2 separate regions of the Homo sapiens genome follow, and region 2 is linked to region 1. The links come from fine-mapping of genetic effects on gene expression. Tissue or cell type: monocytes after Pam3CSK4. Region 1 holds a variant in brackets; the other region holds the start of a gene. All regions are shown on one strand. Distances are between the middles of the regions.

Region 1 (5,261 bases):
CATGCCTGTAATCCCAGCACTCTGGGAGGCTGAGGCGGGCAGATCACTTGAAGTCAGGAGTTCGAGACCAGACTGGCCAAGATGGCAAAACCCCGTCTCTACTAAAAATACAAAATTAGCTGGATGTGGTGGCACACACCTGTAATCCCAGCTACTCGAGAGGATGAGGCTTGAGAATCTCTTGAACCCGGGAGGCAGATATTGCAGTGAGCCAAGATGGTGCCACTGCATGACAGCCTGGGTGACAGAGCAAGACTCCGTCTCAAAGAAAAAGAGAAAAGAAAAAGAAAAAAAGAAATGCTTCTGTGTAATGGAACTTCTGTTTGGGGAGCAATAGGTAAAAATAAAACCCTAGGAAATCCCCAGGTCTCTCTCAATGGGTTTGAGGTAAGAGTTGGCAGGTTGGTTTCGCCTCTGCTTGCCTGTGGGCAGAAAACCAAATGAATCAAAAGGCAGCCAGAATGGAATAACTAGCACCTTAAGATGACACCAGGAAACCTTGAGGGTTTCGCAGGCCCTCAGGATCTAAGCAGACAGTATGACTAATTTGTCTGTGCCCTAGACTTAGCTGCCTGTCTTCCCACACTTGTGGCTTCTCCTGAAAGAGCAGGAATGGCTGTGTTGAGTTGTTGCCCTGCAAGGTTGGACTTGAATAAAATTCAAAACACTTCACATCTTTGGGACTTAATAGTTTTTCTGAAGTAAGCTCCATACAGTTTCTCCTGTATAGTCAATGGGAGGGAATAAGGAAGAATGGGATATGTCTCCCTCCAAGAACCCAGGCACATTGCGTAGCATTAATAGACCCAAACAAAAGGATTCCCCTTCTTTCTCCAGAATCCCTCTTCAGCTGCACAGCTTGCAGCCACGAGAAGGTGAGTCTCTGTTGTGGAGAGAGACACATTTGGCTGACTAGGGGTACTGAGAATTGTCAACCTATAAATAAAGCATTCAGTCAGAAATTGTTAAACTCAGAAAAGCAGCTGAGAAATTAGTAACGGTGTTACTACGTTAAGATTTAAAGAGCTGGCCAGGCACGGTGGCTCACACCTATAATCTCAGCACTTTGGGAGGCCAAGGCGAGTGGATCACCTGAGGTCAGGAGTTCGAGACCAGCCTGCCCAATGTGGTGAAACCCCGTCTCTACTAAAAATACAAAAATTAGCCAAGTGTGGTGGCACATGCCTGTAATCCCAACTATTCAGGAGGCTGAAGCAGGAGAATCGCTTGAGCCTGGGAAGCAGAGGTTGCAGTGAGCTGAGATTGTGCCACTGCACTCCAGCCTGGGTGACAGAGCAAGAGACCATCTCAAAAAAAAAAGAAAAAAAAAATTAAAGAGCAAAGCAAGGCATGTGCCCGTAGTGCCAGCTACTCTGGAGGCTGACATGGGAGGATGCTTTGAGCCCAAGAGTTTGAGACCAGCCTGGGCAATATAGCAAGACCCTATCTCTAAAACAAAATTAAATTTAAATTTAAAAATATTTATGGAGCTGAGGGTTTTTAGAAGTATTTTACCAACTTACAAATTCTTACAATTTAGCAGCTCCAACACAGGCAGAGGGCAGATACACAAGAATCACTGCCAGTCACGAGGCTGAGGAGAATTTCAACACTGGTATGCATCTGTTCCTGAGGCCAATCCCTTAGCAAGGAAATCAGACACTTCTTTCAGATGCCTAAAAGTATCAAACACAAATATTTATGCGTCCAGGTATTAAAATTCATCAAAGGACCTTTCAAGTCGTTATACTAGCTGCTGTTGTTCTGTTCAACTCTAAGTTTCAGGAGCTTAACAAGTGTGTCCCAGACCCAGCCAATTCCCTAGACCACCCAATGTACCCGCAGTGGCCAAATGTCCCCTCTTGGGGTGTGGCCAGTGAGATTCTCAACTAACTTTTCTTCTATGTCTTAATAACACAAGACCTTCTATCCCTCCTTTTTTTTTTTTTTTTTTTTTTGAGATGAATCTCACTTTGTCGCCCAGGCTGGAGTGCAGTGGTGTGATCTCGGCTCACTGCAACCTCTGCCTCCCAGGTTCAAGCCAGTCTCCTGCCTCAGCCTCCCGACTAGCTGGGATTACAGGTGTGCGCCATCATGCCTGGCTAATATTTGTATTTTTAGTAGAGACGGGGTTTCACCATGTTGGCTAGACTAGTCTCGAACTCCTGACCTTAGGTGATCTGCCTGCCTCAGCCTCCCAAAGTGCTGGGATTACAGGTGTGAGCCACTGTGCCCGGCCGTATTCTTCCATTTTTAAGATTTGAGGCCCTTCTCTTAATTTCAAAGGGAAATGACTAAGAGGTATAACTCAGGAAAGACGAGCTGAATGTTAAGGGACAAGAAACGTCAGACTCCAGAGTATCCACAATGCTTCCAGACTGATTCTAAGTCCAGTCACATTTCTGTTAAGAGTGATCTAACAAGAAGCCAACAAATTATCTAGTCTAGAATCAGGGCTTCAACTGGACAGACCATTCAATACATTGAATATATGTGTGTGTGTATATATATGTGTGTGTGTATATATATATATATATA[C/TAC]ACATATATATATATACTTTTTTTTTTTTTGAGACAGAGTCTCACTCTGTCACCCAGGCTGGAGTGCAATGGCACGATCTTGGCTCACTGCAACCTCCACCTCCAGGGTTCAAGCAATTCTCCTGCCTCAGCCTCCCAAGTAGCTGGGATTACAGGCATGCGCCACCAAGTCCGGCTCATTGCCTGGCTAATTTTGTATTTTTAATAGGGACAGGGTTTTGTCATGTTGGCCAGGCTTGTCTCAAACTCCTGACCTCAAGTCATCCTCCCGCCTCATCCTCCCAACGTGCTGAGATTATAGGTGTGAGCCACCATGCCCAGCCACATTGAGTATATTTTAATGTATATTTAATATATTCCTTTTCAGAACTTACCTAGATTTAGAAATTTTAAAAAGATGCTCTCAAAAGGCATATGAAGACTATCTCTGCTAATTTATACAGAGACAGTCTCTAGAAAGATGTAAACCACTAGTACCCAGGGTTGCCTCCGTTGAGAGGAACTGGGTGCCTGGGGAATGGAGGCGAAGAGAGTATGGAGTTTTTTCCATTTGTATGAACCTTTTGACTTTTGTACTGTGTGTATGTATTACCTACTCAAAAGTAAGTAATTTTTTTTTTCTTTGAGATGGAGTCTCGCTCTGTTGCCCAGGCTGGAGTGCAATGGCGTGATCTTGGCTCACTGCAACTTCCACCTCCCGGGTTAAAGAGATTCTTCTACCTCAGCCTCCCTAGTAGCTGGGATTATAGGAGTGTGCCACCACCATGACCAGCTAATTTTTGTATTTTTAGTACAGATGGGGTTTCACCATGTTGGCCAGGCTGGTCTTGAACTCCTGACCTCTGGTCATCCACCTGCCTCGGTCTCCCAAAATGCTGGGATTACAGGCTTCAACCACCGTGCCTAGCAAAAATAGGCAATTTTAAAATTATATGTGAAGAAAAATCTGTAAATGTTTTTGTCATAACCCCCCACCCCCAACCCACCACCACCATTTTTTTCCTGTAAAAATTTTTTCAAGGCCTGAGGAAAATGATGAATTAAACTTTTCCTGACAGGAAAGACAACATCTGAAAATTCTGCCTGATAGATAGAGAGAAGCATCCTGGCAAGAGACACGGAGCTGACAGACGAAGAGATGCACGTCTGACAGAATTGGGACTATTCACCCAAAGTGAGACAAAGTGAAATGCCAAGCACATTGAGAATCTCTTCCTTCTTACTGTCAACGGATTCACCTAATCAAAGCACTTTTAGTCACTGCATCCAATTTCCATCCTCATCCAACACATGGTGGGGTCTTTTTCTCGTTTCTTCTGAGTTGACACACACAAAACCCAAGAGTCCCACTTTTGGCGAGGAACGTGTTGCTGTCAGCTTGCATTTGTTACCGCACATTGGTTCCCCGTGTCCCAGTAATGACCCCCTGTAAAGGCCACTGGGCAAGAGAATTGCAAGATCGAGCGAGGCGGCGGGAATTACAGGAAAGGATTAACGGCAGAACAGCCTGTTGCGACAGCGAAAAACAGCCCGAGGACAGGGGCGTGCTCCCATCTGACAGGCGGAAGTGTGCCAGGGTTTATGTATTAGGTCACAGCAAGAAAGCTATTTTTGCTGTGCCCTCTGACCTTCTGTAGAAGGTGAGCCCCAAGATGCCTATGATACACACCAGACTTTTGCAGGCTGCCCTGACTCAAGAGGGAAGAGCAGATGCTGACTAGTGCAGGGTCCTGTAGAGTTTGGGAATCCACCATTCACAACAGGATGAAAGGATTTTCATGGGTGTTGCCATCTGCTGGGTATGTGTGTTGGCAGCGGGGAGTCATTTACTAAGCAGATGCAGCCTTTCTGTTCCTCCTTCCTCAAACTCCAATTTAAAAAATAGCTAGTCCGGGCACAATGGCTCATGCCTGTAATCCCAGCACTTTGGGAGGCCAAAATGGGAGGATCTCTTGAGCTCAGGAATTTGAGACCAGCCCGGGCAACATAACGAAATCCTGTCTCTACAAAAAATACAAAGATTAGTTGCGTGTGGTTGTGAGCACCTGTAGTCCCAGCTACTTGGGGGACTGAGGTGGAAGGATCACTTGAGCCCAAGAGGTTGAGGCTGCAGTGAGCTGTGACTGCACCACCGCTCTCCAGCCTGGGCAACAGAGTGAGACCCTGTCTCAAAAAAAAAAAAATAAAAAAAATCTAATGGCCAAGTAGGCTTTAGAATTCTAAAAAGCTAGCAACGAAAGGAAACATGGTGCTATTGGCAGAGATTTGAAGTAGCAGTGGTCTCCCACAAAAGTGCTATGATGTACAGAGACTTAGAGGAGTCGCAGTGTAACCCTGGTTAAAGAGATTGGGAAGGTTCCATGGAAGAGGGGCTGAGCATTGTTCAATTTGTTGAGTAAACCCAAAAAGCAGTGCACTGAGATCAGGCCAAGCTAGAGATATCTCTGTGGCAAACACTGAACACTTTTATCACCCCCTTACATTTGGTAGAAGATTGTTGGAATCACCACTCTCCACAAACAGTCAGAAAAACTGGAACCAGATGGCATCTCTAAAAAAATGTGGCCCACAGCCATAAATGTGTGACTTGCATTCTCTTTCAGAACAAGAAAAGATGATGTAGATACTGCTGGTTTGGACTGGCTCAGAGAGAAAAGAAACAAATAGATGGGAGTACGTGCCAAGGGTCACTGATGCTTCCAGAGGGCAGTGGCCTCGGCTGT
Region 2 (5,261 bases), 85 kb after region 1:
CAGTGGTTCCCAAACACCAGTAACTAACTTGCCAACTTCATGGGTTTTTTTTTTCCCATATTCACAGAGTACATTAACTTTTTGCTACAGTTAATTTTTTTAACTCGACTTTTTAAAATCAAAAAAGTATTGTAAAAGAAAATTTTGTATCACTACCTTAAACCATGGCTGTACATATATAAATACAGATTGCAAAAACATCCTATTACAAAAAAATCCTCATCCACGTACCGCCTAGAGTCAAGTCACATGCCACTAGCGGAAAGTGTACCAATTTTGGGACACAATGATTCCAGCCCAACTTTCTCATTTTCTGTATTAGAACACTGGAACCCAGAAAGCCTCGGAAGTCACCGAAACAACTTGAGTCAAACTGACTGTGGTTGCAAATGTTTATGTACTTTTCAAAAACAAACATACAAACAAACAAAAACAAACCAAAAAAAACCCTCCAGTTGTTTATTACCTACTGCGTGGACCTAGTTCACACAGATGGGCCACTCTGCACACCCTGTTTCAGTTCTTTTTCAAAGAAACTATATTTAAAAAGTCACTGCAAACTTTTAAAACTATATATTAATGAACTTTAAAATAAGGTTATGAACCCACAGAAAAGTTTCAATACCAGAAGAGAGGAGAGCGAAGACTAAACTTTGCAATTCTGAAAGGAGGCAGCTCTATCAGACAGGAAGGGAGAGAACACAATTTCCTTTTGGAAAAAATGGCAAAACCAATATACAAGCCTTTGAAACCAAAAGATAGAAGGTCCCCCAAGCAATTTAATTGCATGGGAAAAGACTACTAAGTATAACTAAATCGTCCTAATTTTCCTAAGGGTTTTTCTTTTGGGCTCTCATTAGCCAACGGAATTGAGGCAGAAAAAATGTTTTTCACGCAGGGAGACAAAACATTTGTGATCATCTTAAGTCTCTCGGTGGATGAGAGGCCTGAATACAAATGGTTCTATATTTGGGCAGAAGGGCCAGAAACCTTTTTTTTTTTTTTCCCCTTTAATGTTCTCCAATGAAAACATGTCACTTTTGAAAGGGTGCTCTTCCCTCGAGAATGCCCTTTGCTTCTAACTTTGTGGGAGGTAGACAGGGGTGTTCTTTTACGATAGTAATAGTAGCACACGTCCTGCAGAGGAAGGTCAGAAGCTCGGCGGAACAGGAACCGCAGCTTTCCTCCGGCTTCCCAGCTCCTGGAAGGAAACCCGAGAGCAACTGCCTGCAGCCACATCTGCGAGCAGGGATGCTCACAGACGGACAGGGTGGCCCGCAGCCACCCGCGATGCCACAACCTGGGCTTCCAACAAGGCCCTTCTTTTCCAAAATGTACTTGCCACAAAACAACACAAAAACCTCCTTTTAAACAAGGCAGGTTTAAGGTCAGCCTGTAAGGTGTCAGGGCCTTGGCAGGGAAGGATGAGTGAAGACCTGCAAAGCCCGGCGTTCACGCTCACGGGACTCCCGCTGCTTCCCAAACCCCTATTTTCCAGTCGGAAAAGTCCGGGTTAATACACAAAAGGAGACGCCGAACCACACAAGGTGAAGAGGTTCGCCCAAAAACACCTGCAGAAGACGCTCCTCTCCCTCGCTCTCCTCGGGGACTCAAGGTCCCGGGGAGGAGGAAAGACCAGGGTTGAAGGCAAGAGGCCCGGGGACGGGACTCGGGTCAGGGAGACACTACCGGGGGGGCCGGGGCCACCGCGGGTCCCTGTTGGCCGGAGGGTCTCGGCGGCGGCGATAGGCCTGGCAGCCAGCTCGGGCGGCAGGTCGCGGGTCGGGAAGACGTCAACACTCACCCCTGGGCCCACAGGAGGGTCCCGGCGAGGACCCCCGCCCTCTGGCTCCCGGGGCGCTCGAGTGGGCGCTCTCAGAGGTGGTTGGCTGAGAGCACGGAGGCGCCCAGGGACAGCACCGGCGGAGCGGCCCGCAGAGGGCCAGGGCAGAAGCGCGAAAGGCGCGGGCTGGCCCCTTCTGGGAGCCGTAGCGGAAGAGTGTTCGTGGTCATGTGACGCGGAAAAGGGCGGACGCGTGGCCCACGCACTGGAACGGCTCCACGGTAAGCGATGCGCAGACATCTTTGTTGTGGGCGAAACGAGGTGACCGCAGGTGACTCCTCTTGCGGTTAAGTTTAATTCACACTTCGGCTTTATTAGATTTTGTAATCTTTAAGAACTTGGTGTTTGCAAGGTAAACCTTTGGTAGCCAATTAAAACAACTTTTTCAGGACCATCTGGCATGAAAATTTCTATGCTGTGAGGCTTAGGAATTCTCATATGTAAATCAGCTCCGCCAGTGATTCCATGAGTTCCAATTTGATACTTCTTAAGCCCTCGGTTGATCAGACCTTGTCTTCCATGAGAATTCCGGGAGAGGGGAAGTTAAGTTTCACAGTAGTTGGCGGCATCGTTTAGCTTTGGGAGAGCACTCTCTGCTTCTGAACACCCAACCACAGACTCTTCCCCCCAGGAAGCCCTTGCTTAGAGCGGGGGAAAAATGGTACAGTGCTTGTCAGTATGGGAATGTACTGAGGCCAAATAATGTGATATTTTATATGCCTTGGTTTTCACAAACACCTAAAGGTGTACACATGACTTATGTACTCCCCTACGATCTAATTGATATTCTAGAGATGTTACCATTCTTCAAAATGATTTGGGAAGCCCTCTGAATTGCGTTCTTGGGCTTCTTAACACTGGTGTAGGGAAAGTGAAAATATTTCCTCTCCCCTCTTGGGGTCTTGGCTGGGCCTAAGAATTAAACTGATGAGGAAAAGAGTCAAACTCTAAAATATTTGAAGAGATTTATTCTGAGCCAAATGTGAGTGACCATGGCCCGTGACAGAGCCCTCAGGAGGTCCTGAGAACATGTGTCCAAGGTGGTTGGGGCGCAGCTTGGTTTTATGTATTTTAGGGAGGCATGAGACATCAATCAAATAAATTTAAGAACTACATTGGTTTGGTTCAGAAAGGTGGGACAACTCAAAGCAGGGGCTTCCAAGGCTGTAGGTAAATTTAAACATTTTCTGGTTGACAGTTGAAGACCTGGGACCCATAGAAAGGAAATGTTGAGGTTAAAATAAAAGATTGTGGAGACCAAGGTTCTTTTGAAGTCTTATAGTGGCTGCCCTTAGAGACAATGGATGACAAATGTTTCCTATTCAGATCTTTAAAAGGTGCTAGATTCTTACGTAATCTCTTTAGGATTGGGAGGACCTGGAAGAAAATGATCTAGCTATGTTAATAGAAATTCTATGTAGATGCAGATTTTCCCCCAACAAAGGACAGCTTTGCAGAGCCGTTTCAAGATATGTCAAAAACTAAAAAAAATGTTTTGCGGTAAAATATTTTGATTTTGTTTCTTGTCTCGTTATGCCAGTGTCAGATTGGAAAGTAAGTCACAATATATAGGGTTAAATAAAACCCATCTGATGAGAATTTATGGATTGTAGGGCATGAATCCCTAGGCCCCTTAGATAGGAATTTGAGCAAGATTAAAAAAAAAATCAGAGCTTAGTCTCCACTGACGTAAAATAGAGACATAAAACATAACAGGAGGAAAGCATACAAATTTTATTTAGTAATTTTTACATTTACATTGGAGCCTTCCCTAGAAAAATGGAGACCCAAATTAACAGTTGGACCCTAAGTGCTTTTGAGTCTCCATTTTTCTAGGGAAGGCTAAAAAGAGTAGTAAATTGTGAAAATGTGAGAAAACAAACAGATTTGGGTTAGTGCAGTTAATGCAGAAGTGACTAAGAAGATAAAGGTTGTTGTAACAAAGTGGAAATGAAAATCGGTAAGTTTGTGCAGATACAGCTCAGCTTTGACTCCATGTCTCTGGTGTTGAGAACATCTCCCTTCCTCCTTATACAGGGAGGGCACCTTTCATACGGAAGTTTTATCTCCTGCTTTCAGGAAGGAAAAAGGAAAGCCACAGTGCTCTTTTTGCATTTTTTTTTTAAGTGCCTTTGACTCGAAAATAATCTTTATGCCAAAGTGCCATATTTTGGGTTGGCATATCCTACTATTGACAGAGCAGAAGCACTGCCATTTTAAAGTGCCCCTTGATCAAAAACCACCTAAATCCAACCCAGAGGGCATCAGCCTAATGGCTGTCAGCATGACCACAAACCACAAATGACACCTCCGACCAGAAACATTCTAACTCTAAGATAAACCCCTCTCCCACCAGACACATGCCAGCCCCAAGATAACCTTCCCTCTGACCGAGCGATGTCAGCCCCAAGATAACCTTCCCTCTGACCGGAGCGATGTCAGCCCCAAGATAACCCCTCCCCTCCAACCAGAGACATTCCAACCCTGTAATAAACTTCTCCTCCAAGCAGAAATATTCCAAGCCTGTGATAAGCTCTCTCACCCTAAACCCTTAAATACTCTTAGTCTGTAAGAGAGAGTGCTCCTGACCAAAATTGGCCAGAAGCCCCTCTCAGGTTTATTCTCTAAAATAAACCTATCCTTGATTGTTGAGCCACTTTTTGTGTTTCTCTCTTCTTTCTTTAACTCTTAACAACTACCCTACAGAGACAAATAAGCCTTTAAGAATAGATTGATTTTTAGGAATAATAAGTCATTCCAAGTCAATCTTTTGTGGGAAGATAGAGATCAAGTTGGGAGATCATGCATTAGGTTGGTTCTGAGGACTAAGCTCTGATTTTTTTATCTTGCTCAAATTCCTATCTAAGGGGTTTGGGGAGTCATGTTCTCCAAACCATAAATGCACATCAGATGGGTTTTATTTAACCGTGTATATCATGACTTACTTTCCAATCTGACTCTGGCATAATAAGGAAGAAAATAAAAATATTTTACCCAAAAATATCTTTCCTTGCCCTACCTTGAAATTGTCCTGCAAAGTCTCTTATGGGAAAAATCCACATTCTGTAGAGAATCTGCTTTCCCCTTTGTTTTCCTTCCTTCTGTGTCCGGAATTGGTGGGTTCTTGGTCTCGCCGACTTCAAGAATGAAGCTGCGAATACTTGCGGTGAGTCTTACAGTTCTTAAAGATGGTGTGTCATGTGTCCGGAGTTTGTTTCTTCAGATGTTCAGATGTGTCCGGAGTTTCTTCCTTCTGGTGGGCTCATGGTCTTGCTGGCTTCAGGAGTGGAGCTGCAGACCTTTGCGGTGACTGTTACAGCTCTTAAAGGCAGCACATCTGGAGTTGTTCATTCCTCCTGTCCAGAGTTATTTGTCCCTCCTGGTGGGTTTGTGGTCTTGCTGGCTTCAGGAGTGAAGC

What was found. PIP is the estimated chance that this variant, and not a neighbour inherited with it, causes the effect.
Region 2: MFF starts here. The variant in region 1 is fine-mapped to the expression of MFF in monocytes after Pam3CSK4 (Quach 2016, PIP 0.95).

What each region holds. Positions count from the first base shown.
Region 1 is chr2:227,406,720-227,411,980 of GRCh38, reverse strand. No RefSeq gene overlaps it. Among named protein-coding and RNA genes, the nearest start is that of SCYGR1, 21 kb to the right of the region's middle. RefSeq lists an enhancer at 172-371. The variant C/TAC (reference allele first, on the strand shown) is at 2,539.
Region 2 is chr2:227,321,971-227,327,231 of GRCh38, reverse strand. MFF (mitochondrial fission factor) reads right to left here and starts at 1,981. Exons shown (of 9, transcript NM_001277062.2): 1 at 1,805-1,981. MFF-DT (MFF divergent transcript) reads left to right here and starts at 2,068. Exons shown (of 14, transcript NR_102371.1): 1 at 2,068-2,114. RefSeq lists a silencer at 1,640-1,929 and an enhancer at 2,110-2,159.